Linked DNA regions of Homo sapiens. The protein of the gene in region 1 interacts with the protein of each later gene in a pairwise test. Each region holds a gene or a part of one and is shown in the gene's direction. Other genes may lie near its edges.

Region 1 (6,652 bases):
CTCAGCCTCTCAAACTGCTGAGATTACAGGCATGAGCCACTGCACCTGGCTAAGTACTTTTTTTTTCCTTGTGTTTTTTTGAGACAGGGTTTTGCTCTGTTGCTCAGGCTGGAGTGCAGTGGCACAATCATGGCTGAATGCACCCTCCACCTCCCAGGCTCGAGTGATCCTCCTGCCTCAGCCTTGAATATCTGGGACAACAGGCACGCACGCACCACCATGCAAGGTTTATTTTTAAATTTTTTTTGTAGAGATGGGGTTTCACACTATGTTGCCCAGGCTGGTCTGGAATCCTTAGGCTCAAGTGATCCTCTTGCTCCAGATTCCCTAAAGTGCTGGGACTATAGGTGTGAGTCACTGCACCCAGCCAAGTACTTTTTAAAATTAAACTGGTAAACAGACATTAGAATTACCAATGTAAACTTTATATCTAAAACCAAAATCAATTACAAAGGATCATTATTTTCCAAAGTAGATACTTTTTTTTAGTGCTGTTCAGTTTTTCTGAAGCTTATCTTTGTTCACAAGGATTGTTAGCACTTCCACCAAATCAGTGTTTAGAAACCTTAAATAATTTAACGTCTGACTTGCCAGTACATTATTAGAGAAACAATTCCAAGACCAAAACATGTTGAATAAGCAGGAGATATACACCAATTTGATTTTAAAATGGACAGCTTTCCTGTCTCTGGCTCTCTCTCATGTTGCCTTAAACACACATATGCTGAAGAAATCATATACAGATACTTGCATGCATTTAATAAACTATCCAATAAGTGGTGCTTTTAATAAATTCTGAATACAATCAATTAAAAGATTTGTGCACATTATTATTTAGGTATGGTACCAAGTAAATCAGAAACAAATGCAAGAGCACGAATGGTTTATTTAGCTACCTTTCCATATTGGGTCTTGATGACATTAGATACTCTGCTGTATTTTATTTTTTAAAGTAAACATATTAAAACTAGCCAAATAACCTATATTTTCTTTTATTACATTATGATGCCTTTTTTGGTTTGCCTGAGTTTTTTTGGTTTTTGTTTGTTTGTTTTTGAGATGGAGTTTTGCTCTGTCTCCCAGGCTGGAGTGCAGTGGTGCAACCTCAGCTCACTGTAGCTTCCGCCTCCTGGGTTGAAGCGATTCTCCTGTCTCAGCCTCCCAAGTAGCTGCGACTACAGGTACATGCCATCACACCCAGCTAATTTTTGTATTTTTAGTGGAGACGGGGTTTCACTATATTGGCCAGGCTGGTCTCAAACTCCTGACCTCAAGTGATCTGCTGTGGCCTCCCAAAGTGCTAGGATTACAGGCATGAGCCACCACACCCAGCCTGCGTAAGTTTAATTAAAAAAACAAAAATATTCTGAGTGTGACTTTGTTGAAACAGTTTATATAGGCATTTTAACTTTGGTGGCAGTTTTAGTCCTACTATCAGTCATCTTTTTTCCAGTAGCCCAGCATTGCTGCTACGTTAATTTAAATCTGCCCCTCTGCCCTCTCCTCAGTCTTTTGGCTGTATTTTGCCCATTGGCTGTTAATGCTGATTTTTTTTAAACACAACAAAAACTGTGGATTGCTTATAAAAGTTTTCCCACAATAGGCTTATTTTTATTTCACTTGTTTATTCAGAATATCCTTTCAACTTGTTTTTCGGTTATCTCCTTGGTCAGTTCTAGAATTTACCAAGCTCTCAGTCAGTGTTCAATCTCCTGTGCTGAACATGAGATTTCTTAGGCCTGGATTCAGCTCCTTCTCAAAGAGAGTTAAATATCAGTGCACTTCACCCTTTGACCTTTGTCTTTTGCTGAAACATGTGCCACAAACCATATTTTTTTCCTTTTTAGGAAGCAATGACAGAAGCATATAAGAGTGGAAATCAAATAGTAATGACCACTTCAGATTCTGTGTCATTTAGATATTTTGTTCTAAGTAACAGAAAACCTAATTTAAACTGTCTTAAAAAGATCCTTTATTGATACCCGTAATAGGAAAAGCCCAAGGCTTGACCCTTTTATCTGTTCTGCCTCACTCTGTATACTTGCTATCTATGAAATATAAAAATGACAAAAGCAATTTTAGGTATCTCATTTATACACCATAGAAAAATAAAGTGAATGTATTTCTCTGGCATTCCAAGCAAAGAGTTTTATTGGACTGGTCACTTGCTCACCTTTAAATAAACCACAATAGCTAGGGAATGTGATATGTTACATGGCCTTAGATAATAAAGACTGACCCCTCCAAAGCATATGAGCAGTGAAGAGTAGTGGAGTTGGGTACCAGTGGAACAGGTAGGAATGGAGTCTAGGTAGACAGGGGACATCTGAGGAAATTAAAAACACATAGTTGATTTTCAGTCAAAATAATATATTAAATTCATGTTTGGGCACCTGGCAATAACTGATGTTAAAAAAAAAAAAGCGCCAAAGTATAGTCAGAATAGTAAATAGGATAACCATCTCTATAGAGTACAAGCACAAAGTAATGAGTGAGGCTGTAGCTGTTTTGGAATTGGCCAAAATGGAAATCATCCAATATCTGATCTCAGACGAAAAGGAATTAAATTACAATTTGATAACAGAAAGATAGCCGGAAAATCACTGAATACTTAGACATTAAATAACACATTTCTTTTTTTTTTTTTTTTTTTTTAAGACAGAGTCTCACTCTGTCACCCAGGCTGGAGTGCAGTGGCGCGATCTTGGCTCACTGCAACCTCCACCTCCCAGGTTCAAGCTATTCTCCTGCCTCAGCCTCCCGAGTACCTGGGACTACAGGTGCACACCACCACACCTGGCTAATTTTTGTATTTTTAGTAGAGACGGGGTTTCACCATGTTGGCCAGGCTGGTCTTGAACTCCTGACCTCAGGTGATCCGCCCACCTTGGCCTCCCAAAGTGCTGGGATTATAGGTGTGAGCCACAGCACCCAGCCCAAAATGTTTTCAAAAGACATATATGATGAAGACTGTTATCCAAAATACACAAAGAACTCTTAAAACTCAACAAAAAGAGAGGTGGGTATGGGTGCTGGCTGAGGTCACTCAGTGCTGACCATCCTCTTCTCAAAGCCATGTCTCTAAGACATCATGGTGAAGGTGAAGGCCAGAGTAAATAGATTTGGGCCATATTGGGCACCTGGTCACCAGGGCTGCTTTTAACTCTAGTAAAGTGGATATTGTCACCATCAATGACCCTTCATTGACCTCAACTACATGGTCTGCATGTTCCAGTATTTCTACCCATGGCAAATTCCACCACACCGTCAAGGCTGAGAATGGGAAGCTTGTCATCAATGGAAATCCCATCACCATCTTCCAGGAGCAAGATCCTACCAAAATCAAATGGGGTGATGCTGAAGCTGAGTATGCCGTGGAGTCCACTGGCATCTTCATGACCATAGAGAAGGCTGGGGCTCACTTAATGGGGGAGCCAAAAGGGTCATCATCTCTACCCCCTCTGCTGATGCCCCCATATTCATAATGGGCATGATCCCTGAGAAGTCTGAAAACAGCCTCAAGATCATCAGCAATGCCTTCTGTACCACCAACTGCTTAATCCCCCGGCCAAGCCCATCCATGACAACTTTGGCATTGTGGAAGGACTTGTGACCACAATCCATGCTGCCACTCCTGCCCAGAAGACTCGATGGCCTCTGTGGGAAACTGTGGCATATGTCTGTGGGGCTCTCCAGAACATCATCCCTGCATCTACTGGTGTTGCCAAGGCTGTGGGCAAGGCCATCCCCGAGCTGAACAGGAAGCTCACTAGCATGGCCTTCCGTGTCCTTCTGCAAACGTGTTGGTTGTGGACCTGACCTGCCATCTGGAGAAACCTGCCAAATATGATGACATCAAAAAGGTGGTGAAGCAGGCGTCAGAGGGCCCCTCAAGGGCATCTTGGGCTACACTGAACACCAGGTTGTTTCCTCTGACTTTAACAGTGACACTCACTCTTCCACTTTCGATGCTGGGGCTGCCATTGCCCTCAGTGACCACTTTGTCAAGCTCATTTCCTCGTACAACAGTGAATTTGGCTACAGCAACAGGGTGGTGGCCCATATGGCCTCCAAGGAGTAAGACTGCTCGACAACCAGCCCCAGTGAGAGCACAAGAGGAAGAAAGAGACCTTCAGCTTCTGGGCAGTCCCTGCCATGCTCAGTCCCCCACCACACTGGGAATCTCCCCTCTTCACAGTTTCCATGCAGACCCCACAAAGAGCTCTATCTTGTCGTGTACCATCAATAAAGTCCTCTGTACTCAAAAAAAAAAAAAAGATAGAAAATGAACAACCTGATTTTAAAAATGAGCCAAAGATCTTAATGGACACCTCATCACAGAGGATATACAGATGGCAAATAAACATATGAAAAAGATGCTCCACGTCATATGTCATCAGGGAAATGCAAATTAAAACAATGAGATCCCACTACACACTTACTAAAATGGCTAACTAAAATCTAGAACGCTGACAACACCAAATGCTGGTGAGAATGTGGATTAACAGGAACTCTTATTCATTGCTAGTGGGAATGCCAAATGGTACAGCTACTTTGGGAGACAATTTGGTGGTTTCTTAAAAAAACTAAACATACTCTTACCATCCAGCAATCATGCTCCTTGGTATTTACCCAAAGGAGTGAAAAACTGTCCACACAAAAACCTGCATGTGGGTGTTCATGTCAGCCTTATTCATAATTGCCAGAACATGGAAGCAACCAAGATGTCCTTCAGTAGGTGAACAGATAAACTGTAATACATACAGAGAATGACATATTATGCAGTCCTAAAGAGAAACTATGAAGCCATGAGAAGATACAGAAAACACGTATTATGAGGGAAAGAAGCCAATCTGAAACAGCTGCATACCGTATGATTTCAGTTATATGACATTCTGGAAAAGGCAAAATTATAGAGACAATAAAAATATCAGGGGTTGGGTAGAGAGAGGGATGAATAGGCAGAGCCCAGAAAATTTTTAGGGCAGTGAACCTAATCTGCCTGATGCTATAATGATGAATACATGTCATTGTAAATTTGTCTAAACCCATAGAATGTATAACACCAAGAGTGAACCCTAATGCAAACTATGGACTCTGGGTGATAATGATGTGTTAGTGTAGGATCATCAGTTATAACAGAGGTACCCTCTGGTGGTGGCAGGGTGGGGGAATATGGGAAATCTGCTCAGTGTTGCTGTGAACCTAAAACTGGTCTAAAAAATAAAGACCGTTTTAAAAAAGATAAAGTAATAAAAAATATGCTCACAGCTCAGTTGTGATACTAGTAATGCAATTTTTATGCAAAATTATGCTTTTGAAGAAATCAGAATTCTCAATTTTTTGGTGATTATTTAAATTTTCCTCATTTTTATATGGTTTCTTTTAAAATGTTTCACTTTTTTCCCTGATTTATATTAGAATGGCAATGTATGCTTAACACTTGTATTTTTATAAGTTTATGAGTTTTTAATGTTCTGAAATGTTATTTTTTACTTCAAATGTGTTGAACATTTAACTTGTTAAAACATTCCAGGCTGGGCACAGTGGCTCACGCCTGTAGTCCTAGCACTTTGGGAGGCTAAGGCAGGAGGATCACTTGAGCCCAGGAGTTTGAGGCCAGCCTGGGCAACATAGTGAGACCCCATATGTTTTAAAAAAAAATTCTGAACTAAAAAAAAAAAAAACAGCATTAATGCTAGTATTCCATATTATATAAAATAAGTGTGAAATACCCAAATTACTTTTTTTTTTCATTTCTGGGTAAATCTTTAAAATTTTTTTAATTAAAAAAATTTCTTATTTCTAAAAATCTTTGTGGATACATAATAGGTGTATATCATATTGCATTTCTATCTAATATGTACCTGCTTATGGGAGGAGTCAACAAATGTTTATTATTTCTAAATATTCCTATTTCTCAGACATTAAAAGATGTTCAAGAAGTAGTCATATGAACGTGATTTGATTTCTTTTTAAATGTAATATCAGTTTTATTGGTACCCCATTTTTGCTATACATTTTTAGTTTAGTTATATTTTTTGTCCACCTTCAGTGAATGCCTTCATTTTCATTGTCATTACTTAAGCATTTATACTGACTTCCAGACTCCACTGAAAGACTTGTTTGAATGCATACTTTACGTTTGGACCATCCATTCACTTAACAGAAAAGATACAGGTTGAGCACTTAGTGTGTAATAGGTAATGCGAAATACTGTGGATAGTGTGGAACAAGACAACTCATGCCCTCAAAGTTTACTTTCAAACTGAGGAGATGTACAATACATGATTAAGCACATAAATAAGAAAATTATAGATTATAATAAGAACACGAACAAAATAAGCAGGGTGATGTGAAAAGTAATGTGGGGAGAAGTAGGTGACATTTGAGCTGAGACCTGAGTGATTCTCCATCCAGGGAAGTACATTCCAGCAGGAAGAAAAGTAAGTGCACCTCTGAGGCAGGAAGGAGGCAAGTCAGGGGTAGAGTATAGAGAACAAGAAGGGGGAATGGTTAAAGATGAATTTGGAGAGGTAGGCAGGAACAAAATTATCAGGGCTTTGTAGCCTGATAATTTATCCTTTATTAAGGATTTTGGCTGTTGTTTTAAATACATTGGGCTGCCATTGACATATTTCAGGTAAGGGAA
Region 2 (6,652 bases), on another chromosome or scaffold:
ATGTGATGTCGATGTGCCTCATTATCAGGGATACCAAGCTTGAACATGTGGCTAAGGTGGCATCTGCCAGAATTCTTCATGTAATAGAACTGTTTTTCCCTTTGTAATTTGCCAACTATTTTGGAAGAGAGAAGCTCTATCAATATTAAAAACATACATTTTTGACCCAGAAATAGATCCACAGAGATGTGATTTATTTCATCTCCTGCAAAATGGGGATGATAATGCCCCCAAAGCTGATACGAGCCCCTGTATTGAGCAGTGCCTCACAACAGTAAGCTTGCTGTTGGTTCATCTCAAGCTCCTTGAGGCCAGCTAGGTTTGGAACTCAGGACTTTTTTCAGAATTCAGATAACATTGGGCATTTATTATATATTATGTGACAGCCCCAGGAGGATCTAGGACAGCACCGCATGCTCAAACACTCATCTTTCTGCAGTGAAATGTATGAGCATTCACATGAAAGGAGGAAGATAAAGACTATCAGTAGCTTCAGATAAGTTCTGATCAGACCTTGATCTCAGTTCAGGTTTTGTTGCTGGAAAAGTTTTTAAAACTTTCTCTGAGTTTTTAGAGACCGTTTTGGATTTCAAAGTTGTGAATAAGGGACTGTACACATAGGTAAGAGTTCGTAAACACAGAGATGGATGTACAGTTCCACATCTGCAGATTAAACTAGCTGTTCAAAATGTACTTAAGCCTGGCTGGGCATGGTGGCTCATGCCCATAATCCCAGCACTTTGGGAGGCCGAGGCAGGCAGATCACTTGAGGCCGAGAATTCGAGACCAGCCTGGCCAACATAGTGAAACACTGTCTCTACTAAAAGTACAAAAAAAACTAGCTGGGTGTGGTGGTGGCCACCTCTAATCCCAGCTACTCAGGAGGCTGAGATGGGAGAATCCTTTGAACCTGGGAGTCGGAGGTTGCAGTGAGCCAAGTTCGTGCCACTGCACTCTAGCCTGGGTGACAGAGCAAGACTCCCATCTCAGAAAAACAAACAAAAATTAGTTAGGCCTACTGTGGTTGCATCTGTACTGAACATGTATAGACTTTTTTGTGATTAGTTCCTAAACATATGGCTTAACAGCTAATTACATAGCATTTATATTGTACTAAGTATTATAAGTAATCTAGACATGGTTTAAAGCCTAGAGGAGGATGTGCCTGGGTTGGATTCACATAGTATGCCATTTTATATAAGAGACTTGAACATCCTTGGCTTTTGGTGTCCTCAGGGGGTCCTGGAACCAATCCCCAGTGAATACTGAGGGACAGCTGTGTAAGGTTGTTTATGGTAGCATTGTTGGAAATAAGCCTGGAAAACCTTGACTGTTTCTCTGTAGGAGATCAGTTAAGCAGATCTTGGCACACAGTGGTGCCCTATTCAGCCCTTTGAAAAGAATGGAGCAAACCATAATGTGCTACTAAAAAAGGGGAGGCAAGATGTGTTACTAAGAAATACACAGCATTTACAGAAGAGTGTGAATGGTGTGATCTTGTTTGGATTAAAATAAATATATTGATGCTTATATATGCATCTAGAAACATCTAGAATAGCGGCTATACATATGAATCACCTGGGGAGGTTAAAAAATACAAATATCCGGGCCTTGCCCTAAACCCCATTGAATTAGAAATGCAGGGCTGGGGGCCAGGTGTGATGGCTCACGCCTGTACTCCCAGCACTTTAGGAGGCTGAGGCGGGAGGATCACTGAGCCCAGGAGTTTGAGACCAGCTTGAGCAACATAGTGAGACCCCATCTCTACAAAAATAGAAAAAATTAGCTGGGCGTGGTGGCACACACCTGTAGTCCCAGCTACTTGGGAAGCTGAAGTGGGAGGATCACTTGAGCCCAGGAAGTTGGGGAAGCTGAGGTGGGAGGATCACTTGAGCCCAGGAGTTGAGGCTGGGATCACACCACTAGGCAGCTATTTCAGCCTGGGTGACAGAGTGAGTGTGTCAGCCTGAGCAACAGAGTGAGACCCTGTCTCAAGAAAAAAAAAAAAGGAAAGAAAAGAAATGCAGTGGTGGAGCCCAGGTATTGATATTTTAAAAAGTGTCAGGCTGGGCACGGTGGCTCATGCCTGTAATCCCAGCACTTTGGGAGGCCGAGGCGGGCGGATCACAAGGTCAGGAGATCAAGACCATCCTGGCTAATGGGGGAACTTCGTCTCTACTAAAACTACAAAAAATTAGCCAGGTGTGGTGGCAGGTGCCTGTAGTCCCAGCTACTCGGGAGGCTGAGGCAGGAGAATGGCATGAACCTGGGAGGCGGAGCTTGCAGTGAACCTAGATCACGCCACTGCACTCCAGCCTGGGCAACAGAGAGAGACTCCATCTCAAAAAAAAAAAAAAAAAAAAAGTGTCCCAGGTGATGCTGATGCCCCTTGAGTGTTGAGGACCACTGGAACAGAAGGACCCAGATGTTAGAAAATGTTATCCCTTTCCTTTGGAGTAGGATGAGGGGGATGTAATTTATCCTTTTTTCTTTTTTTTTTTTAATCAGAGTCTCGCTCTGTCGCCCAGGCTGGAGTGCAGTGGTGTCATCTTGGCTCACTGCAAGCTCCGCCTCATGGGTTCAAGCTTTTCTCCTGTCTCAGCCTCTTGAGTAGCTGGGACTACAGGCATGTGCCACCATGCCTGGCTGCTTTTGTATTTTTAGTAGAGATGGAGTTTCACCACGTTGGCCAGGCTGGTCTCAAATTCCTGACTTCAGGCCATCTACCTGCCTTGGCCTCCCAAAGTGCTGGGATTACAGGCATGAGCCACTGCACCCGACCAATTTATACTCTACTGTGTGTAGTTTCCTATTTTTTCCTTAGCAAAAGCCATTTGGAAAAGTCCCTGCCACCCCCTCTTGTATTTGTACTTTTATATTTTAAAAACAAGGTTAGCTGGGCACGGTGGCTCATGCCTATATTCCCAGCACTTTGGGAGAACGAGGCAGACGGATCACCTGAGGTTGGGAGTTCCAGACCAGCCTGACCAACATGGAGAAACCCCGTCTCTACTAAAAATACAAAATTAGCTGGCCGTGGTGGTGCATGCCTGTAATCCCAGCTACTCGGGAAGCTGAGGCAGGAGAATCGCTTTAACCCGGGAGGCAGAGGTTGTAGTGAGCTGAGATCACACCATTGCACTCCAGCCTGGAAAACAAGAGCGAAACTCCGTCTCAAAAAAAAAAAAAAAAAAATCATTGAGGCTGGGTGCACTGGCTCATACCTGTAATCCCAGTACTTTGAGGGGCCCAGATGGGAGGATCACTTGAGGTCAGGAATTTGAGGCCAACCTAGGCAATAGTGAGACCCTGTCTGTACAAAAATTGTTTTAAAAAATTAGCTGGGCATGGTGGCCCATGTCTGTAGTCCCAGCTACTTGAGAGGTTGAGGGCAGGAGGATTATTTGAGCCCAAGAGTTTGAGGCTTCAGTGAGCCACAATTGCGTGACTGACTCCACCCTGGGCGACAGAGACCCTGTCTCTAAAATAAATAAACAAAAATTTTAAAAAGTTTAAGAGTCAAAAAAGAGACTCTTGTGATCAAGAGTCTCTTGAGTATATTCAGTGCTTGCTGATATCAGCTGATAATTGAAAGAAAAACGTGGTTTCCCCTTTCATCCTGAGAGGCCAGAAGCTGGTAAGACATGAGCACAGGTCAGAATTTCCACCCGTGGGAATTCTGGGGGTGCTTTATTTTAGATGATTCGGCTAGATTGCTTCTTTATCCCCTGGCAGGCCCCCATACTAGTAGCTAGCTGTTAAGAAAAAAGAAGCCTTTTGGTGACCCACCTGAAAAGACCATAGGGTGAGGATCAGTTCTCCCATGTTCTCACTGGTGAGAATTGGGTTTTGCAGGTGAATCCTTGGTGGTATCCTCTTCCTTACCCGTCCCTTGTCTTTTTTGCCCACCATCCCCTTTCCTCCTCTGTTGCTAGACACCCCTGGTGTAAAAGGCTCTCTGTGCTCAAAGGCTGTTTGTTGCAGTGCAGCCACGCTCACTCTGATAAGGTTCTGTTTTATCTGGCTTGGGAAAAGCCATTTGGAAAAGTCTACTTTCCTTGTTCCTAGAGACCAGTGCTTGCATCCAGGCAGACCTGGCTTTGAATTGAAGCCCATTAACAAAATTTATGGCATCTTTCTTCTAAGCTGTATTTTTGTGCACTCTGTAGCTCTCACACAGAGGCACTGTTTTTCCTAACATGAGGTGTACAATGCAGCAGTTGCACAGATACGGTCCCTAAAGTGAGAAATGAATGTTCGAAAGAAGGTGCTCTCGTTTGGCATGGAGTGAATGCCTTGTTTCCACCTCAAATCCTAAGATGGAACACATTTTTCCTGGTGACTTCAGGCAGATGGCACACCTCCCACTTCCGTTGTGTGTCATGAAGGAGGAGACACTTCTATAGCCAGGGCTGTGCCTGAATAATGATGTACATGGGGGGGAGTTCACATTCACCTCCAGAATGGGTTTCCTGCTTTGCTTGAGAAATGCTTTAATTGGGTGTCATTAGTAATCCTGTCAAGGGTAAAAAAAACCTCCCTTGTTAGGAATCAAAGCAAAAAGCTCTCTCTGAGGAGTAATGAGGAATATACTCTTTCTAATATGATGCGGAAGCACTTAATATTTGTTATTGGTGTTTACAGAAATGATTACTTCTCAAACATTGCTGCTTACAGAAATGATTAATTCTCAAACTATGCCGGGAAGGTGAGTATGGTAATGATTTTACAAGGGAGGAATCTGAAGTGTAAGAGGAATCATGTCTTGCCCCAGGTCTCGAGCTAATCTGTGGCAGGTTTCGGGGCGGTGCCTGCTCCTCCGAGCCTGTCCTGGGAACTGGCCACACTGCCCTGGGTTCACAGCACCATGGGCTCTGTGCGTGCCGTTCACATACTCTTCTCCCTTGACAGCTTTGCACGTCAAGGAGAAGCTACCAGCCCACGCTTCTTGGCAAGACTCCTTTCCTCTTGGTTGTAAGGATGATACGGTCTGCTTCGGAGATGATAAAACTAGTATTGATGTTTATTTATTTGCTTTTACTTGGCAGATTCTCAGCGCTGATTTTGAGATGATGGGCTTGGGAAACGGGCGTCGCAGCATGAAGTCGCCGCCCCTCGTGCTGGCCGCCCTGGTGGCCTGCATCATCGTCTTGGGCTTCAACTACTGGATTGCGAGCTCCCGGAGCGTGGACCTCCAGGTGTTTTGTTTTCTTTATTGTTATGTTTATTTTATGTTTATGTTTTGTTTATTTTGTTATGATGGGGTCCCAGGGGTTTGTTGTTTATTGCCAGCCAGGGCGTTTTGTGCAGGGCACACGCTTGTAAGGTGAGTTTAGGGCTCTGCACACCCCCACAGCCCTGGGCCAGACCCCAAGCAGCTTTGGGTGGGAGAGGTCCCCTCTGTGGTTGTGTAGGATTGCGGTTGTGGTATCCCTCCCTGCCTTTCCTGTGAGTTAACAGCATTCATTTGAGCTACTGGGGTGGTTCTGGGAAGACAGCTTGCTTACATACACTGGCCATAGTCCGTTGTTTGCGGTCCTCCGGCGCCCAAGATATCGAAGAGTAGTATTGGAAGTGTGCTTGGATGATGGGTGTAAGAAATATGTTTTTAAAGGTACCAATCTTTATCTTCATTACTTAATGATAATAATAATTTTAACTTCCTCATTTACCGGTGCAGTCATGGGTCAGGTGCAGTGCTGAGCAGTGACAAAGATGCTCCTCTTGATTGAACTTGAGTCGGGCCCTTCTGAGCCGTCTTCTTGACTAGGCCTTGATCTTGGCACCTCCCAACTCTCACTGCCTGTCTTTGGCCTGCCCAGCCCAGTCCTAGCAAAGGATCCCGCTAAGCCATCCTTCTACCCCTGATCCTTGACCAAGTTCCTCATCCCTACCCTTGCTGTCTAAGTCCTTGGCCTGTGTTTAGCAAGAATCTTGTTAGGCCAGTTTAGCAAGAATCCCCCTACTCTGGGGGCGATTTCCATCCACTGACTCCCCGCACTGTGCTCGTTGGCTATAAATCCCTAGCTGTCTTTGATGTGTTCGGCATTGAGCACAATTTCCCTCTCCTATTGCAATCGTTTTGAATAGTCTTTCTTACCATTTTAATGAATGTCAGAATAATTTCTCTTTCACAGTACTTTATACAAATTATCTCCTTTTGTGCACAAACCCTACAAGGCTGGGACTTGACTTTCCTCATTTCACAGGGGGTCAGACTGAGGCACCAAGAGGTTGAGGTGGAGCAGGGATTCCAACCTGCATGGGCTTAGCCGTGGCACCCCAGCACGTCTGTGCTCTGTCCTGTTCTCACACTTACCCTCCTGGGCTTGTACTCCCTGTGTCTCAGCTTCCACGGGAGTTCCTGTTCTCTGGGCAGATGAGGTCTGCTTGTCTGGAGTTGGAGAACTGAATCTGTTTTCAGAAATTGTATCTGCTAAAGAGTTGTTAAGTGCTTTGTTAGCAGCGAAGAAGAACTAAATATTTGAGCATCATCTTATGCCAGGTAAAGCATGAGGCATTCTGTGCACTTAGCACATTTAAGCCTCACAAAAACCCAGTGGGAAGTGTGGTGTGAGTGCACAGAGCCTTCCTTCACTTACACTGACAGAGACCATTTTTTCCAGAAGAAACCGCTCCAGCTTCTGTCCAG
Region 3 (6,652 bases), on another chromosome or scaffold:
TCGGCTCATCAAATTTCTGGATGTCATCAAGGAGGTCTGTGTGACCTAAGGATCATTGTTCTTTGAAAGAGAGACAAGTTCATTTATCTTGCAGGCAGCTGCCAGGGAGTCAGGATGTAAGTTAAACAATTATGAGTGAATTAATGGTTACCTGCTACTGAAATGACCAAATGTAACTAATCATGCATGGAGGAAGGAAAGGACAAAGAGAAAAGAAAAGAAGTAAAACGAACATCTTATAATTTTTATAACATAGGTTCAGTTATAGCACTGCACATGTAGGGGTGGCTTTGACCCATCAAACACAGGTGTGGGGGGCCCCTGCCACAGGGAGTGTGGTCACTCCGTTCCACACCGTTTCCCGGATGGGCAGTTCTGAGCAGCCTTAAATTTGGGGTGAGCAATGCAACTTCAGACCCCGCTGTCTGAAGGAGGTGGTCCAGCCTTGGGGAGAGCTGAGGCTGGGTGCACACAGACCCACTCCACTAAAGGAATGCGGTGCGTGGATGGCTGCAATACTGAAGGAAGCCATGAAAGTAACACAAGTTTGTCAAAGCTGAAAAGTCCGTGAACTAAACTGATAAAATTCACTTAGAGGTGGTGGGAATAGGCCGGGCACGGTGGCTCACGCCTGTAATCCCAGAACTTTGGGAGGCCGAGGCAGGCGGATCACAAGGTCAGGAGATCGAGACCATCCTGACTAACACAGTGAAACCCTGTCTCTACTAAAAATGCAAAAAGTTAGCCAGGCGTGGTGGCAGGCGCCTGTAGTCCCAGCTACTCAGGAGGCTGAGGCAGGAGAATGGCGTGAACCCGGAAGGTGGAGCTTGCAGTGAGCTGAGATCACGCCACTACACTCCAGTCCGGGCGACAGAGCGAGACTCTGTCTCAAAAAAAAAAAAAAAAAAAAAAGAGGTGGTGAGGTGGTGGGAATAGAACTTTGCAATCATTCAGAAAGCAGACATCCGGCAATGAGCATGAAAGAAAAGTAGATCACAGTTCCCAAGGAGGCTTAGTGTGGTCAAGGCCTTTCAGAGGGGATTTCGGGTGAGCAAAAGTGATTCAAAGTGGAGAAAAGCAGGACTGCGTTGGGTGCAGTGGTTCCCGCCTGTAACCCCAGCACTTTGGGAGGCTGAGATCGGAGGATCGTTTGAGCCCAGGAGTTTGAGACCAGCCTGGGTAACATGGCAAGACCCTGTCTCTACAAAATGTTTAAAAAACTAGCTAGGTGTGGTGGCACATGCCTGTAGTCCCAGTTACTCAGGGGGCTGAGGTGAGAGGATTGCTTGAGCCTAGGAGGTTGAGGCTACAGTGAGCTAGGATTGCGCCACTGCACTCCAGCCTGGGTGACAAAGCAAGACCCTGTCTCTAAAGAAAAAAAGAGGCCGGGTGTGGTGGCTTACACCTGTAATCCCAGCACTTTGGGAGGCCAAGGCGGGAGGATCACTTGAGGTCAGGAGTTCAAGACCAGCCTGGCCAACATGGCGAAACCCTGTCTCTACTAGAAATACAGAAAAATTAGCTGGGTGTGGTGGTGGGCACCTGTAATCCCAGCTACTCGGGAGGCTGAGGCAGGAGGATCACTTGAACTGGGGAGGTAGAGGTTACAGCGAGCCAAGATCGCGCCACTGCACTCCAGCCTGGGTGACAGAGGGAAACTCCATCTCAAAAAAACAACAACACAACAACAACAACAATAACAACAAAAAAACAAAGCAGGACTGGAGAGAGGTGGAATGAAGTGGCAAGGGGTTCCTGAGGGGTGATTTGGGACAGGACATCTAAAGCCAGGTGTACGCTCACGTCCTCAGTCCCCCAGGCTCCTGCACGGGCTCTGTTCTTTTGCAGAAAGGCCTTTTCCACCTCATATCCAGCTCCCTCCAGAAATTCAAGAGTCCCAGGAAGTCACTCTGACCTGCTTGCTGAATTTCTCCTGCTATGGGTATCCGATCCAATTGCAGTGGCTCCTAGAGGGGGTTCCAATGAGGCAGGCTGCTGTCACCTCGACCTCCTTGACCATCAAGTCTGTCTTCACCCGGAGCGAGCTCAAGTTCTCCCCACAGTGGAGTCACCATGGGAAGATTGTGACCTGCCAGCTTCAGGATGCAGATGGGAAGTTCCTCTCCAATGACACGGTGCAGCTGAACGTGAAGCGTGAGTCTCCCCGGCATGCCTGTGGGAAGGGCAAGGTCTGTGTCACCTTCTCCCCAGCCCCGCAGGGGGCATGCACCCAGGGCAGGGGGAAGCCTGCACAGACGGCGGCATCCTCCAGCCCTGGTCACGCCGCCTTGTCAGCCCTGGTGTTTCGGGAAAAAGATTTGCTCTAGCCTAACAGAATAAAATGGTCCATCCTCAAGCCATGACATGAATTGGGGATTATCTGGTTAGGTCTTTTTGTTCCCCTCTTGGTGGGGATTTTTTTCGCATCATTATCTTGTGCCTCATTCATTCAATAAATACGTATCATGAACCTACTAGGTACCAGGCCTTATTACGGCTGCCAATGGGGGGCATGGGGCGGTGGGCAGGGTGCAGCAGTGAGCAAAACTCTTGCCCCACGCGGAGCCAGCGCTGCAGTGAAAGAGACAGACAACAAATGGATTACCAAAGAAATACAGAGCATGAGCCAAGACATTAGAATCTGGAACAAAGCAATGTTAACAAAGAAATATACAACACTATTGTAGGTAGTGATATGTGTGTTAGGAAAAAAATAAGGCCGAGAGAGGGGAGTGATGGAGAGAGACCTCTCTAAGAAGGTGAGCACTTAGGCCGGGTGCGGTGGCTCACGCCTGTAATCCTAGCACTTTGGAAGGCCGAGGCGGGGGGATCACAAGGTCAGGAGATCGAGACCATCCTGGCTAACATGGTGAAACCCCATCTCTAGTAAAAATACAAAAAATTAGCCAGGCATGATGGCAGGCGCCTGTAGTCCCAGCTACTTGGGAGGCCAAGGCAGGAGAATGACATGAACCCAGGAGGCGGAGCTTGCAGTGAGCTGAGATCGCACCACTGCACTCCAACCTGGGTGACGAGTGAGACTCCATCTCAAAAAAAGAAAAAAAAAGAAGGTGAGCACTTAAGCTGACTGGAACGGAGGGAGTGGCTGAGGCCGGCACATATTTGGGAGAGGAGGATTTCAGGGAAAGAGAAGGGCAGGTTCAAAGCTTTGAGGCAGCAGCTGGGTGGGAGGACCTCAGAGGCTGAAGTTCACCGCCTCTGAGGGCCACATGGTAGGACAGGAGGCAGGAGATGGAGCAGGACTCTGGATCCCGAGGGCTGAGGTGAGGGTTTGGGATTCTATGCAAAGCACAGAACCCGCTCGTGGTTTCCAGCAGGATTGGCGAGGTCTGGTAGATGGTGTTAGGAACCCTGCGTGCTGCTGGTGGAGACCAAGAAGTAGAGGAAGTGGGAGGGGGAAGCTGAGAGCCGAGTTAGGAGGCTGTGACCATCACCTGGGTGAAGGGACTGGCAGGCCATGGCTTTGTCAGAATAAAAGCACTTTCCACACCCTCCACCCTCTGAGGATTCCCCGCCCCCTCCCCGACTGCCCCTCTGCTCCTCCAGACACCCCGAAGTTGGAGATCAAGGTCACTCCCAGTGATGCCATAGTGAGGGAGGGGGACTCTGTGACCATGACCTGCGAGGTCAGCAGCAGCAACCCGGAGTACACGACGGTATCCTGGCTCAAGGATGGGACCTCGCTGAAGAAGCAGAATACATTCACGCTAAACCTGCGCGAAGTGACCAAGGACCAGAGTGGGAAGTACTGCTGTCAGGTCTCCAATGACGTGGGCCCGGGAAGGTCGGAAGAAGTGTTCCTGCAAGTGCAGTGTGAGCCCCTCGGAGCTGGGGACAGGCCAGGCAGGGAGGTAGCAGGGGTGGACCCGGAGAGGGGAGCCACGGGGGCTCTCGGGGCCGTGTGCACAGGTTGGGGGTGCTCTCCTCACCCCTCCACTCGCCTCTGCCCCCTCTTCCAGATGCCCCGGAACCTTCCACGGTTCAGATCCTCCACTCACCGGCTGTGGAGGGAAGTCAAGTCGAGTTTCTTTGCATGTCACTGGCCAATCCTCTTCCAACAAATTACACGTGGTACCACAATGGGAAAGAAATGCAGGGAAGGACAGAGGAGAAAGTCCACATCCCAAAGATCCTCCCCTGGCACGCTGGGACTTATTCCTGTGTGGCAGAAAACATTCTTGGTACTGGACAGAGGGGCCCGGGAGCTGAGCTGGATGTCCAGTGTGAGTAGCCACGGAGCCTCTGGTTCTAGGGAGAGAAGATGGACACAGGGAACGGGGAAGGCAGATGGGGTGCAGGGCATTCCGGGGTCCTGGAGTCAAGAGCAAGGAGCAGCCAGGGTCTCCTGTTCACAACTGCTGTCTCAGCTCCTAGCATAGGGCCTGGCTCATGGAGGGTGCTTGGTAGATGCTTGTTTTTTTGTGTTTTAGTTTTTTTTGAGATGGAGTCTCCCTCTGTCTCCCAGGCTGGAGTGCAGTGGCACAATCTCGGCTCACTGCAAGCTCCACCTTCCCGGGTTCATGCCATTCTCCTGTCTCAGCCTCCTGAGTAGCTGGGATGACAGGCGCCCGCCACCACGCCCGGCTAATTATTTGTACTTTTAGTAGAGACGGGGTTTCACCGTGTTAGCCAGGATGGTCTCGATCTCCTGACCTCGTGATCCACCCGCCTCGGCCTCCCAAAGTGCTGGGATTAGAGGCGTGAGCCACCGCACCCGGCCTGTAGATGCTTGTTGAATGAATGAGGCCAGGTGCGGTGGCTCCCGCCTGCAATCCCAGCTCTTTAGGAGGCTGAGGCAGGAGGGTCTCTTGAACCCAGGAGTTTGAAACCAGCCTGGGCCACACAGCGAGATACCATCTCTACAAAAAAATACAAAAATTAGCTGAGCATGGTGGTGCGTGCCTGTGGTCCCAGCTACTGGGGAGGCTGAGGAGGGAGAATCACTTGAGCCCAGGAAGTGAAGGCTGCAGACTGAACTATGTTCCTGCTACTGCACTCTAGCCTGGGTGACAGAGCAAGACCTGGGTCTCAAAAAGAAAAAGAAAATGCTGGGACTGGGATTATAGGTGTGAGCTGGGCACAGTGGCTCACACTTGTAATCCCAGCACTTTGGGAGGCCAAGGTAGGCAGCTCACTTGAGGCCACGAGTTCAAGCCCAGCCTGGGCAACATGGTAAAACCCCATCTCTACAAAAAAAAATTAGCCTGGCATGGTCATGCATGCCTGTAGTCTCAGCTACCCAGGAGGCTGAGGTGGGAGGATCACCTGAGCCTGGAAGTAGAGGCTGCAGTGAGCCTGTGATCATGCCGCTGCACTCCAGCCTGGGTGACTGAGTGAGACCTTGTCTCAAAAAAAAGAATGGATTGGCCAGGCATGGTGGCTTACGCCTGTAATCCCAGCACTTTGGGAGGCCAAGGTGGGCAGATCACCTGAGGTCAGGAGTTCGAGACCAGCCTGGCCAACATGGCGAAACCCTGTCTCTACTAAAAATACAAAAAATTAGCCGGGCATGGTGGCAGGCACCTGAAATCCACCTACCTGGGAGGCTGAGGCAGGAGAATCGCTTGAACCCAGGAGGCAGAGGTTGCAATGAGCTGAGATCATGTCACTGCACTCTAGCCTGGGTAGAGTGAGATTCTGTCTCCAAAAAAAAAGAATAATTAACTGCAAGATACCAGGACTCCATGAGGGACACAGAGACTTAGCGTCCCTAGGCAGTGGCTGAGTCTTGAGAGATCTTGAAATTTTTAATGAGAACTGGGGCAAACTGTCTCATTACCTCTCCATTGTAAGACCCTTTTAACACAGTGAATCTTGTTACCATGTAGAGCACAGGACAAAAAGAACACATAAGCTCGATCCTTGGACCCTGAGATGTCATATGTGCTAACAGGACAGGGGTGCCCAAATCCTGAGCATCTCAGACAGCTGGATGCGTGACCACAGCAGCCACAGTGATGTTTGTGGAGTGTTTGCCACACGCCACACTCTGCTCTAAGGGAGTCATCTCATTTCCTTCTTGAAACAATTCCCAGGAGGTTAGGAACTCTCAGGACTCACCCCCCACCCACCCCGCACTGCCTCTTGTTTTTAAGATGGAGTCTCCCTCTGTTGCCCAGGCTGGAGTGCAGTGGCTTGATCTCGGCTCACTGCAACCTCCACCTCCCGGGTTCAAGCGATTCTCTTGCCTCGACCACCTGAGTAGCTGGGACTACAGACATGCACCAGCATGCATAGCTAATTTTTAAAATTTTTAGTAGAGACAGGGTTTTGCTGTGTTGGCCAGGTCTCGAACTCCTGACCTCAGGTGATCTGCCCACCTCAGCCTCCCAAAGTGCTGAAATTACAAGCGTGAGCCACCATGCCCGGCCTCAGGACCCCATTTGACAGACGTGTAAACTGAGACCTGCAGCCCATGCCCGTGCGCCTCTCAGCAGCCGTCTGGCTTCAGCGCTGTGCCCTGAACCCCTGCACCAAACCACAGCCAGGCCAGAGAGCCAGGGCAGGGTTTCTGTTCTCACACAGATGCAGGAAGGACGCACAAGCCCCCCTTTGATTAATTTAGGACCTGTGCAGATGCCCGGGACAGGTAGCGGGAGAAGAGGAAGCAGGAGGGAAGGGGTACTGTGGA
Region 4 (6,652 bases), on another chromosome or scaffold:
GGACGCAAGACCCCAGGCGTGTGCGCTCTTCTCATTGAGGCCGCCTGTGAGCTGGGAGAAGTCAGAGGAACCATCTCGCTTTCCCAGCAAAGCCGCTGGCGAAATCCCTCAGCAGTTCTGGTGAGGGATTCAGACGAAGACGGGGGATTGGGATGCCCTCTCTGGCAAGGCTTGCTCCCTCTCGTGGCTCCTCAGGACAGCTCGACTCTTGCCACCAGCCCCAAGTTCACAACTCAGAATATGTGGCTTTTCGCAGTGTTGCCCTCGGACTGAGGAGTTCCATCCTCTCGCCAACCTCCAACCCCCACATATTTCTACTGCCATTTGAGGGGACCTGGGAATTATTAAGTGAACATAGAAACCTTGAATTCTGGAGTGTCCACCTGTGGATTCCCTGGGCCCTCTCCAGGACTTGTGGTTTTAGTTTGCAGCTTTGCTGGACTTCCCTGGCAGAAGGGGCTTTGGGGATCTTGGTGCCTCAGACCTTGTGATCCATTGGCACAGCAGCGGTGTGCAGGCCCCGATGAAGATAGTGCGTCAGTGGTTGTCAAAGGAAGTCTCTTGACTACCCAGGCCCACTGTGATGCTGGAATGGAGGGGTCCTGGGACAGTGTAGAGCAACTTCTGCGGGGAAGATGGCTGCCACAGTCACCCCTGGGACCACCTTTTTCCCTGCTTTGATGCAGTTCAGGGGCTCCTGGGAAAGCAGGCAGTGTAGGGACTCATGCTGTTGCCTAGGTTACCTCCAAGGGCACCTGCTGAGCATTGCCCTGTGGTTGAAGGCAGGCTGTTGGCCTTCAGGATCAGTGAGTGGCAAAGTCTGAGTGAAACTTGATGAGAAGCAGTAGAGGCTAGGCTGAAGCTAGGCCCTGGCATTTATATGGTGTGAGGAGGCCTAGAGCTGTGATCTTAGGAGTGTATAATAAAACTTGGAAAAACCACTATTTTACCAGGAAGAGGCTCACTGCTGGGGAACAGACTTCAAAGTAGGTGATCATAGGGGACTCAGGGGGAGGGCTGGCTGGGACTTTCCGGTCAAGACCTCACAGTGCAGCTAGAGGGTGGGGGTGGTGGTGGGGGTGCAGTTGGCTATGCAGAGGTGTGGCTAGTGCATACTCTGACACAGACCAGGTTCACTGAGGGGCTGAGGTCACTGGTTTAAATTATAGTGAGTATAGGTCAGGAAGAAACAGAAAGGAATTTGGTATGTCCCTAGGGTCTCAGAATACTTTGGCTTGGGTCCTTGCTGTGGTGTATCTTGAACTCACTGACATTATTTTTTATACTAGAGGTTCTTAGGGACACCACAGTTTTTATTTTGGAAAAGTCAGGAACACCCTATCACATGGAGCTCCTAGAAAATCTCATCCTCAGTACTACCTTTGCTGAGCTCTTCAACTTTCCCAAGCAACCATTCAGATCCTGAGATTCTGAATGTCTTTGCCTGCAGACACTTTCTGCTGTTTACTCAAAATTTCCCAGCCGTCTGTGCCACAGCACTGGTGTCTCAAAGGGATAGAAGAAGCTAATAGAAGTTTGTGTCATTTTTATCAGCCAGTATTTGTCCAATAGCCATTCTGGGAGAAACAGAATGTACACCCCCACGCTCAAGGAATTTGGTGCATCGTCCATTTTTATTAATATCTGACATGACTTCCATCTCTAAGAGTCTATGAATTTGGTGTTTGGAGGCACCTCGTAACCCAATTTCTCTTTGACTAGGCCTAATATCTTCACAGACCTAAAGCTGTGTTGAGTGGCTTAATGGGTGGAAGGTCCTGCAGATGATTGGGATTGTTGTGAGGAAGCCCCACAGAAAGGTAGTTTCTTATACTTTATTTTTAGAGATGGGATCTTGCTCTGTTGACCAGGTTGGAGTGCAGTGGCGCAGTCATATTTCACGACACCTTCAAACTCCTGGGCACAAGCAATCGTCCCACCTCAGCTTCTCAAGTAGCTAGAACTACAGGCATGCGCCACCACACCTGGCTAATTTTTATTTATTTATTTATTTATTTAAAAACAGACTCTTGCTATGTTGCCCAGGCTGGTCTCAAACTCCTGGCCTCCAGCAGTCCTACTGCCTCAGCCTCCCAAGTAGCTGGGAAGAAAGGTAGTTTTGATGTTTGAGGAACAGCTCCACATCAGAGTGCCTCTGGGCATGGGAAAAAGCCACAGAAGTTAGAAGGGATATGGGATTCAGGCCTTACTAGAGCATGCAATGTGCAGTTTTTGTGGACCCTTTGATGTATACAGTTTTGTGGTGTCACCAGCTGTATATCTTATCCCCTCTCTTCACCAGTTTTGGAGGAAAGCCAACTTTCCCTGGGTCCTAGGCTTGGGTGGATTGGCAGGCAAAAGGTCCCTGAGAGGGAGGCAAGTGATCAAACTCTGGTTTAGTGAAAAAAGGAAAAAGATCAGGAGGGAAATGAGCCTGTATTTCTTGCCAAGATCATGGGAAATTTGTGAGTTCCCCAACCCAGACCAAACAGCAGACAGGACAGGAGGCAACCAGGCAATTCTGTGGAAAGTAAAGGCCCAAGCATAGCTTCTTGGGGTGGTAGGGAAGCCTTTTGGAGGAAAGAGGGGAAAGAGAAGCAAGACGCCATTGATTGTAGGCCCCAGCTCAATATTGGGACCCTAAGTGAGTTGGACCTGCAATAGGGTTAGGGTTGGGAGTTCAGAGGACAAGGCAGAACAAGCCAGAGTTGCTAACATTGGCTCTATGCTTAAGTCTTTTTAAAAGTACTCCAGAGTAAAACTTGACTGCCGGTCCACCATTGAGCCAAAAAATATGGAAGGCATTTTTGTTTTACTGGGCAGTTTATAAGCATGGTCCTTGTAAGCTCCCAAGGGGGGTCAAGGCTGAGGCTCTCATCACCAGAGAAAGGGACAATGGTCAGGAAGGTTCACTACTAGGCACAAGATAGTTCAGGCTGATGGTCCACTCTGATGGAAACAGAATTTTCTAGGCATGGGGAAGAATGATACACTCTGCCTTTGGGTGAACCAAGAGTCCCAAGGTTGGGTGGGGCCAGGTAGAGTAGGCTGTCTTTCTCCTTCTCACCTTAGGGGTTTTCATTGCTTGGTTCAGTGTCTCACTGGACTGTAACACTAAATTGCTGACTTTGGGAGCAAAGTGTATTTTGAGCAAATCTGCCAATCTCTTGACTTCAGCTGAAGGCTCTTGACTACTGTCCAGCAGAGCTAGATCAGGTTGGCTTAGCGCCTGCTGTGGTGCTTCAAGCCACACAGCCCTTGGCCAGGCATCTCTCACGTCATTCCCCTGCCCCCTTTCCAACCAAATGGGATCTTGAACTATGACCATGACTGATACTGAAAGGGATGAGAATAAGAGATTGGGTCATTTGGAGGCCAACCAGGAGGATGCTTGTTTGAGTTGGGGTAGCTGGTTGAGGCTGGATGCCTGGATCACTGTACAGTGGCCTCAAATGCTCATTCTAAGTCTAAAAAAGCAAGACCCAGGGCCAAATCTGGACTCCCCAAAGCTGGCAGTCTCAGTGATACCAGCTAGGCAGTAACTGTGACTTAGACAACTTGTGCCCCTAACTTATTCTGTGACTTTGGACAGGCACTTCACCTCTCTGTATGTCAGTTTATCTATCTATAAAATGAGAGGGTTTGACTAAATAAACTTTCTAGCCCTACCATTCTATCCTTCTAAAATTATGTGATATCTTATTCTTTACTATTCATATGTCATACATTTTGACTCATTTAAGTAAATAAAAGTTCGTTAAGCTGCCTGAATGACAGTGAGGATGGATTGGGAGAAGATTGGGAAAGCAAGGAAAAGCCCTATATACATCATTTCCCCACGTCATTTGTATTTAAAGACTATGGGGCTGCCCATGGGTATAGATGTGTTTAAAAATTACCCAATCCTTTTTACCTAGTATGTAAGGGCAACCCTGCATGTGGAGCTGCTTCTTCCAGAGTGTCCTGATTGGTATAGAGCTGGGTCTCCAAGAGAACTCCCTGGATTTGGCAGGCAAGCAGGGTGGGTCTGTATGCTGCTGTTTTCCAGCGTTTGAACCTGTTCCTCAAAAGTATTAAATTATAAACATTTCCTCAAGCCTCAGTTTGGACCCCTCTTCTGAAACTGAATTTCCCACAGCACAGTCTTATTTCTCAGAAATGCATAGTCAGTGTGACCTTGGTTTGCTGTTACTTCCAGCTAGCAGAGGAAACGGATTCCTAAATGAGGTTCCCTTCAGAGGTCTTCAAACAGGGCGTTTTGATAGCTGGCTCAGGGCCACTGCCTGGATCCTGCTGTGGTGGGGTTGGGGAGGGTTGCTACTGTGATCCTGGAGAAGGCCCATTAGATGCCCACAATCCCTGGTCAACTGCAGCGTCAGGGCTTAGCTGAGAGTGTGCCTACGGAAGTAGCAGGCACAGAGCTCTCTTTCCTTTTCCTTGGAAGTCATTGGCCGTATTGCCTCCAGCCCATGAAGAGTAAACAAGCAGCTGGACTGTCAACATTTGTAGAAGTATATAAAGGATGCCATATCAACCTTTTGAGCAGACCAGTTTCCCAGGAAGATGCACTGCTTTTCCCACCAGCCTCATTTTATGGTTTTGTTGCATTTTGAAAAGATGAAAACTACTCTTTTCAGATTGTGTGAATGACGGAGTGGGATTTCCTGTCTTGAAAGGTGTTGTCTCACTTGAGATTGAATGAATGAACCCTAGAGAAAAGGCTTTGTTCTACACATATACACATGTGCGCAAGCGCATGCGCACGCGTGCACGCGCGCGCACACACACACACACACACACACACACACACCCATACCCTACACCCTAAGCCATAGATTATGAATATTCCATCTGAAATAAGTCATTTCCCATCTGTTCATGGAATTAGGTGTACCAGAGGCTTCTGTAAAGATTATGCTGTACTAGTGCAAAGGAACCAGACTAAGAAGCTTGCTAGGCGAGAGTGATGAAAAGAGTATGGCCAGCCTGGATTGTACCTCTTGAACTGGACCCATTTGCAACTCCCCAGCAGTGGGGCTGGGAAACTTTATTGCAAGTCTCTTTCTCCCTTCATCCTCCTGTATCTCTCCCAGTATTCAAATATTACTGGGAAGCGGGTTTAGGCAACCCCAGCTCTCTCTGGCTTTAGGGGTGACAGAAGACTAAACCTAGAGAGATTTCATCACCTGCCTGAAGCTGGGTGCTATGGTAGATAATGTGAAATCGCTTGACACCTCCTTGTGGATGGGGAATGTGGCCTGTTTGGGTGGCTTGAGGAAGTGCAGCCTCTTCACCCTAGGAGTCTCACCCTCTTTTATCCTCAACTTCGCTCCAGTTTCCAGCATTGGTGGGAGAAGGGATGAAATTGGCTGTCCCAATCACATATTTTCTCAGCTTCTCCTACTTTCACAGTGCATTTTTTATCACGTTTGCTATATGTGCCATACCCTTTTTTCCCAGTATTGTTCCCTCTTTTCTTTTTCTTCCTACTGCTCAGTTAGAGGAACAATTGGGGTTTGGGATGTTGTATAGGCCCAACTCCTGCCAGAGTCACAGGCCCACTCCTACACATCCTACAGAGGCCTCCCTTCCCCCTTTCCCCTTCCTTTCCTCTCTTACTTTCCACTTTCTGGGTGAAGGGTGACTTTCGATGGAGCACTCAAGAGTGTGGAAGCCATCACCTCTGGATTTTCGCATAAAGATAGCTGCTATGACACCCTTTTTGTCACTTCTACACCTCTTTCCACAGCCCTAGTAACCCAGCTCAGAAGGTAGTATTGTAGAAAGTCTTACTCAATAATATTCAACAAATGTCGTCATTACTTGTATTCCTTTCTTTTCAAATCCTGACTATCATTGTCCCCCATCTCCTGGGCCAGCTGAACTTCCAGAGATTTCATACTGGTTTTTGGTAGCTTCCGTGTTTCTGGTTCATTCTATTTTGAGCCCCTGACATCTATTTTCTTGCCAAAACTGCTGCACAATTGGTTGTAGAGGGGTCAGAGAAGGGAGAAGACAGACACTCAAGTCCTAACGAGAGTCAAAAGTGCCTTTACAGGAAGATTGCTCCAGCCCAGGAGGTTGAGGCTACAGTGAGCCATGATCACCACTGCACCTGTCTCAAAAACAAAAAGAAAGAAAAAGAAAAAAATAGGCCAGGCCCAGTGGCTCAAGCCTGTAATCCCAGCATTTTGGGAGGCTGAGGCAGGAGGATCACTTGAGCACAGGAGTTTGAGGCCAGCCTGGGCAACATAGGGATACCCCGTCTCTACAAAAAAAATTTTTAAAAACTAGGCTGGCATAGTGGCACATGCCTGTGGTCACAGGTACTTGGAAGGCTGAGATACTAGGATCTCTTGAGCCAAGGCGGTTGACGTTGCAATGAGCCATGATCACACCACTGCACTCCAGCCTGGGTGACAAGTGAGACCCTGTCTCAAAAAAAAAAAAAAAGTGCCTTCAGGGAGGGTGGAGGTGGGGGAGTGAAGCTCCCAGTTTAGTTGCTCTTCTGCTTTTACATGGCTGAAGGGGAAAAGAAAGGGAAATGTTGCCAAACAAGCAATGCCCATACCATCTTTTTCCTCAACTTAACCCATGGATCTCCTCACCTACCCGCTTATCCAGACTGGAAGGATATATGCATGCACTCATG
Region 5 (3,500 bases), on another chromosome or scaffold:
AGAGACAGGGTTTCACCATGTTTGTCAGGCTTATCTCGAACTCCTGACCTCAGGTGATCTGCCTGCCTCGCCCTCCCAAAGTGCTGGGATTACAGGCGTGAGCCACCGCACCTGGCCTCTCATGTTTTTCTATAAGCAGTTAAGAGAAGCCACACAGCATCCTGAACACTTTGCTTTCTATCTCTTCTGCCAAATATCCTAGGTCATCATTCTTAAGTTCTGCCCTCCATGAAGTCCTAGGAAACGACATAATTCAGGTAAGTTCTTTACCACTTTCTAACAAGGATAACCTTTCTTCTAGTTTCCAATACCTTGTTCTTTATTTCTGTCTGAGACCTCATCAGAATTGCCTTCACCATCGGTATCTCTATCAACATTCTGTTCATGACCACTTAGGCAATCTCTAAGAACGAGGCTTTCCCCACAGCTCATATCCCACATCTACAGCTCTCCTCTTCTTCTGAGCCCTCACCAGAATCATCCTTAGTGCTCCGTTCATGGCAATCCAGGCTTTTTTCAGCACTCACTTCAAAGCTGTTCCAGCTTGTATTCATTATCCAGTTCCAAAGCCACCCCCACATTTTTACATATTTGTTATAACCCCTGGTTATAAATGTTATAAACTCCTCTGGTACCAATTTCTGTCTTAGTCCCTGTTGTGCTGATATCACACAATACGCAGACTGGGTAATTTATAAAGAACAACAATTTATTTCTCACTGTTCTGAAAGCTGGGAAGTCCAAGATCAAGGCAGCAGCATCTGGTGTCTGCTGAGGGCTGCATCCTCACATGCAGGAGGACAAACAGGGGACCAGCTCCCTCCAGCCAACCCCTGTATGAGGGAGGGCATCTGCTCCTAGTTCAGGAGGGAGGGGCCCTCATGGCCTAGTCCCTTCTTAAAAGTCCTCTTCTCGGCCGGGTGTGGTGGCTCACACCTGTAATCCCAGCACTTTGGGAGGCCGAGGTGGGCAGATCACCTAAGGTCAGGAGTTCGAGAAAAGCCTGGCCAACATGGTGAAACCCCGTCTCTACTAAAAATATAAAAATTAGCCAGGCGTGGTGGCGGGTGCCTGTAATTCCAGCTACTCGGGAGGCTGAGGCAGGAGAATCGCTTGAACCTGGGAGGCAGAGGTTGTAGTGAGCCAAGATCGTGCCACTGCACTCCAGCCTGGGTGACAGAGTGAAACTCTGCCTCAAAAAAAAAAAAAAAGTCCCCTTCTCTTAATGCTATCACCTTGGCAACACCTGGATTTTGGAGGGGACACATTCAAACCACAGCAATCACCAACAACTGGTATTTTTCTCCCACCCTACATATTCTTTAGGTAACCACCCAGGCCAGTGGGGAAAATAATCAATCTACTTCTGAATAAATCCTAGCTATAGTTTCATGCTACTGCAAATGGGATAACAGCAAATCATGCCTGAAAATTTTTGGAATAAGGTGATGTTTACATCGTTATGCTGATTTTTACAAACTGTGAATCATATTGACCAGGTTCATTTGTACTAGACCACCACACCAAAACTTTATAAAATTATTTTCCAGTTGGGTGAAAAATGATGTTGTGCTTTCGTTTGCCCATCTCTAATTTCCGGGAGATTTATAATTTGTTTGTATTATTTTGTGAATCATCCGTTCATGTCTTCTGCCTATTCTTCTACGGTCTTTTTCTTATCAATTTGTAAAGACTCTAATGTAATAGCCAACTGCTACAAGCATGTTTCTGATTTGTTGTTTACCTTTTGATGTTCTTGATATTAAAAGATGCTTATATAGCTGAACGTTTTTCTTTTCTAGTTCCCCCCTTTATGTTTATGGCTTGGAAGTTTTCTCTATCTGAGATCAATAAATATTACCTATCCTCCTCTTTCCCCACCCTCATCCTTTTATTTTACCCACATGTTTAAAGCATTACAGACAGTGGAGTCCAGTTGGTTATGCAACTCACTTTACAGATGAGACTTCAGTGACGTAACATAAGGCTTGTTTTATGAGAATGTGTTGATCCTTCTTAACGTGGCTTATGATTTGCAATCTCAGGCACGTATTGTGTTTCCTGCCAAAATATACATTTGTTTGCTTGCTTCATTAGCCACCTAACAGCCTTCCCCTAATTTTTTAGGTGTCCTGATGGCAAATTTCAAGGGCCACGCGCTTCCAGGGAGTTTCTTCCTGATCATTGGGCTGTGTTGGTCAGTGAAGTACCCGCTGAAGTACTTTAGCCACACGCGGAAGAACAGCCCACTACATTACTATCAGCGTCTCGAGATCGTCGAAGCCGCAATTAGGACTTTGTTTTCCGTCACTGGTAAGAGCAGGGGTCATTTGGTCTAGGGAATCTCCTCATCATACCCAGAACCTTTAATTCATTTTCTGAGCCCTGTGAAATAGATGTTCCCACTGGCAGAGATAATAGGGCAACAATTTCCTGATGGCCACTAGACTATTTTATCGTAACATCCATTGTGTACAGAGCTTTATAATACTAACGGTTGACAGCTCTCACATCATGGGACACTGTGAAAAACTCAAATCAACAAGGACACAGGTATGGAAAGTTGTAGGAGCAAAACACCCACTGTATGAAAAAGATATGACACAAATAAAAAGAGAAAAAAACAAAATAGATTAGGCTCACGTACCTTAGTTGTGACAAAGTAGAAAAATCACCTTTTTTCCTCAATTGTCTCTCCCTCCAGATCCTTACAGTAGTTAACACCCAACCCACTGGCTTATCTTCATCCTCAAGTCTCAAGCGCTTATAGAGAGTTTATGTAGATTCGTAAATTAGCCAGTGGGAGAGAAAAAGCAGCAGAGGGCTGTTGAAGAGGAATTTTCCTTCACTCTGCCCCATTCCAACAAGATCCACCCACTCCCACTGTTTCCTTCGCATCCACTCCGCTCCACTGCGGCCCTCCAGGAACAAGCAGTGATGACAGTAACAAGTGTTCTTCCTCAGGACCAGCCCCACCTGGGGGGAATGAGGGGTCTTAATCTGCAACTGACAATTACCACTTGTCATCAGTGGCCTATGGCTTCTTGGAGAGAGTGAAGCAACATCGCTTCTCTTGGAGGAAGCAAAGCTTCACAGGGCTTTGTTGGTCTCATCCTGCTGAATGTCCCCACTCACCATTCAGGCATCAGAGAGGCCTCCCGTGAGAAGTGACAGGGACCTGTGGCTTAAAGGATCAGGACAGCATCAACCTTGCCTAAATAAAGCTAGGACAATTACAATATTTGGCCCCTTGACTGGGTGAAAATGGTACTCATTCAACAGCTCTCTGGCACTCCTACCACAAGCCAGGAAGTCACTGTTCCAGGCATAGGAGATACACTGGGGAACCACACAGCCGCTGCTGTCACAGGGCTTCCATTCTAGTGTCACTGGGACTTTTCCTGGGTCATTTCCACAACTTCCTGACTCTGTGTGTGGGAATTCAAAAAGGGTCTGGCTTGAGAAACAAGTATCTGGGAAACGGAGTCCAAAATGTCATC

The links.
Region 2: the proteins of ANKRD46 (region 1) and GOLM1 interact in binary tests that used the Homo sapiens proteins (3 or more experiments, as listed by UniProt).
Region 3: the proteins of ANKRD46 (region 1) and CD22 interact in binary tests that used the Homo sapiens proteins (3 or more experiments, as listed by UniProt).
Region 4: the proteins of ANKRD46 (region 1) and SLC16A2 interact in a two-hybrid assay, tested with the Homo sapiens proteins (one large-scale study listed by BioGRID).
Region 5: the proteins of ANKRD46 (region 1) and TMEM45B interact in binary tests that used the Homo sapiens proteins (3 or more experiments, as listed by UniProt).

The regions. Positions count from the first base shown.
Region 1 is NC_000008.11:100,548,153-100,554,804, reverse strand, and holds part of ANKRD46 (ankyrin repeat domain-containing protein 46), read left to right. Parts: intron 1-3,071; exon of another isoform or gene 3,072-4,265; intron 4,266-6,652.
Region 2 is NC_000009.12:86,077,738-86,084,389, reverse strand, and holds part of GOLM1 (Golgi membrane protein 1), read left to right. Parts: intron 1-5,048; 5' UTR 5,049-5,069; coding exon 5,070-5,198; intron 5,199-6,652.
Region 3 is NC_000019.10:35,334,188-35,340,839, forward strand, and holds part of CD22 (B-cell receptor CD22 isoform 1 precursor), read left to right. Parts: intron 1-1,848; coding exon 1,849-2,154; intron 2,155-3,567; coding exon 3,568-3,834; intron 3,835-3,980; coding exon 3,981-4,244; intron 4,245-6,652. UniProt on the Homo sapiens protein: Most highly expressed siglec (sialic acid-binding immunoglobulin-like lectin) on B-cells that plays a role in various aspects of B-cell biology including differentiation, antigen presentation, and trafficking to bone marrow.
Region 4 is NC_000023.11:74,423,033-74,429,684, forward strand, and holds part of SLC16A2 (monocarboxylate transporter 8), read left to right. Parts: intron 1-6,652. UniProt on the Homo sapiens protein: Specific thyroid hormone transmembrane transporter, that mediates both uptake and efflux of thyroid hormones across the cell membrane independently of pH or a Na(+) gradient.
Region 5 is NC_000011.10:129,850,348-129,853,847, forward strand, and holds part of TMEM45B (transmembrane protein 45B), read left to right. Parts: intron 1-202; exon of another isoform or gene 203-257; intron 258-1,314; exon of another isoform or gene 1,315-1,445; intron 1,446-2,127; 5' UTR 2,128-2,135; coding exon 2,136-2,313; intron 2,314-3,500.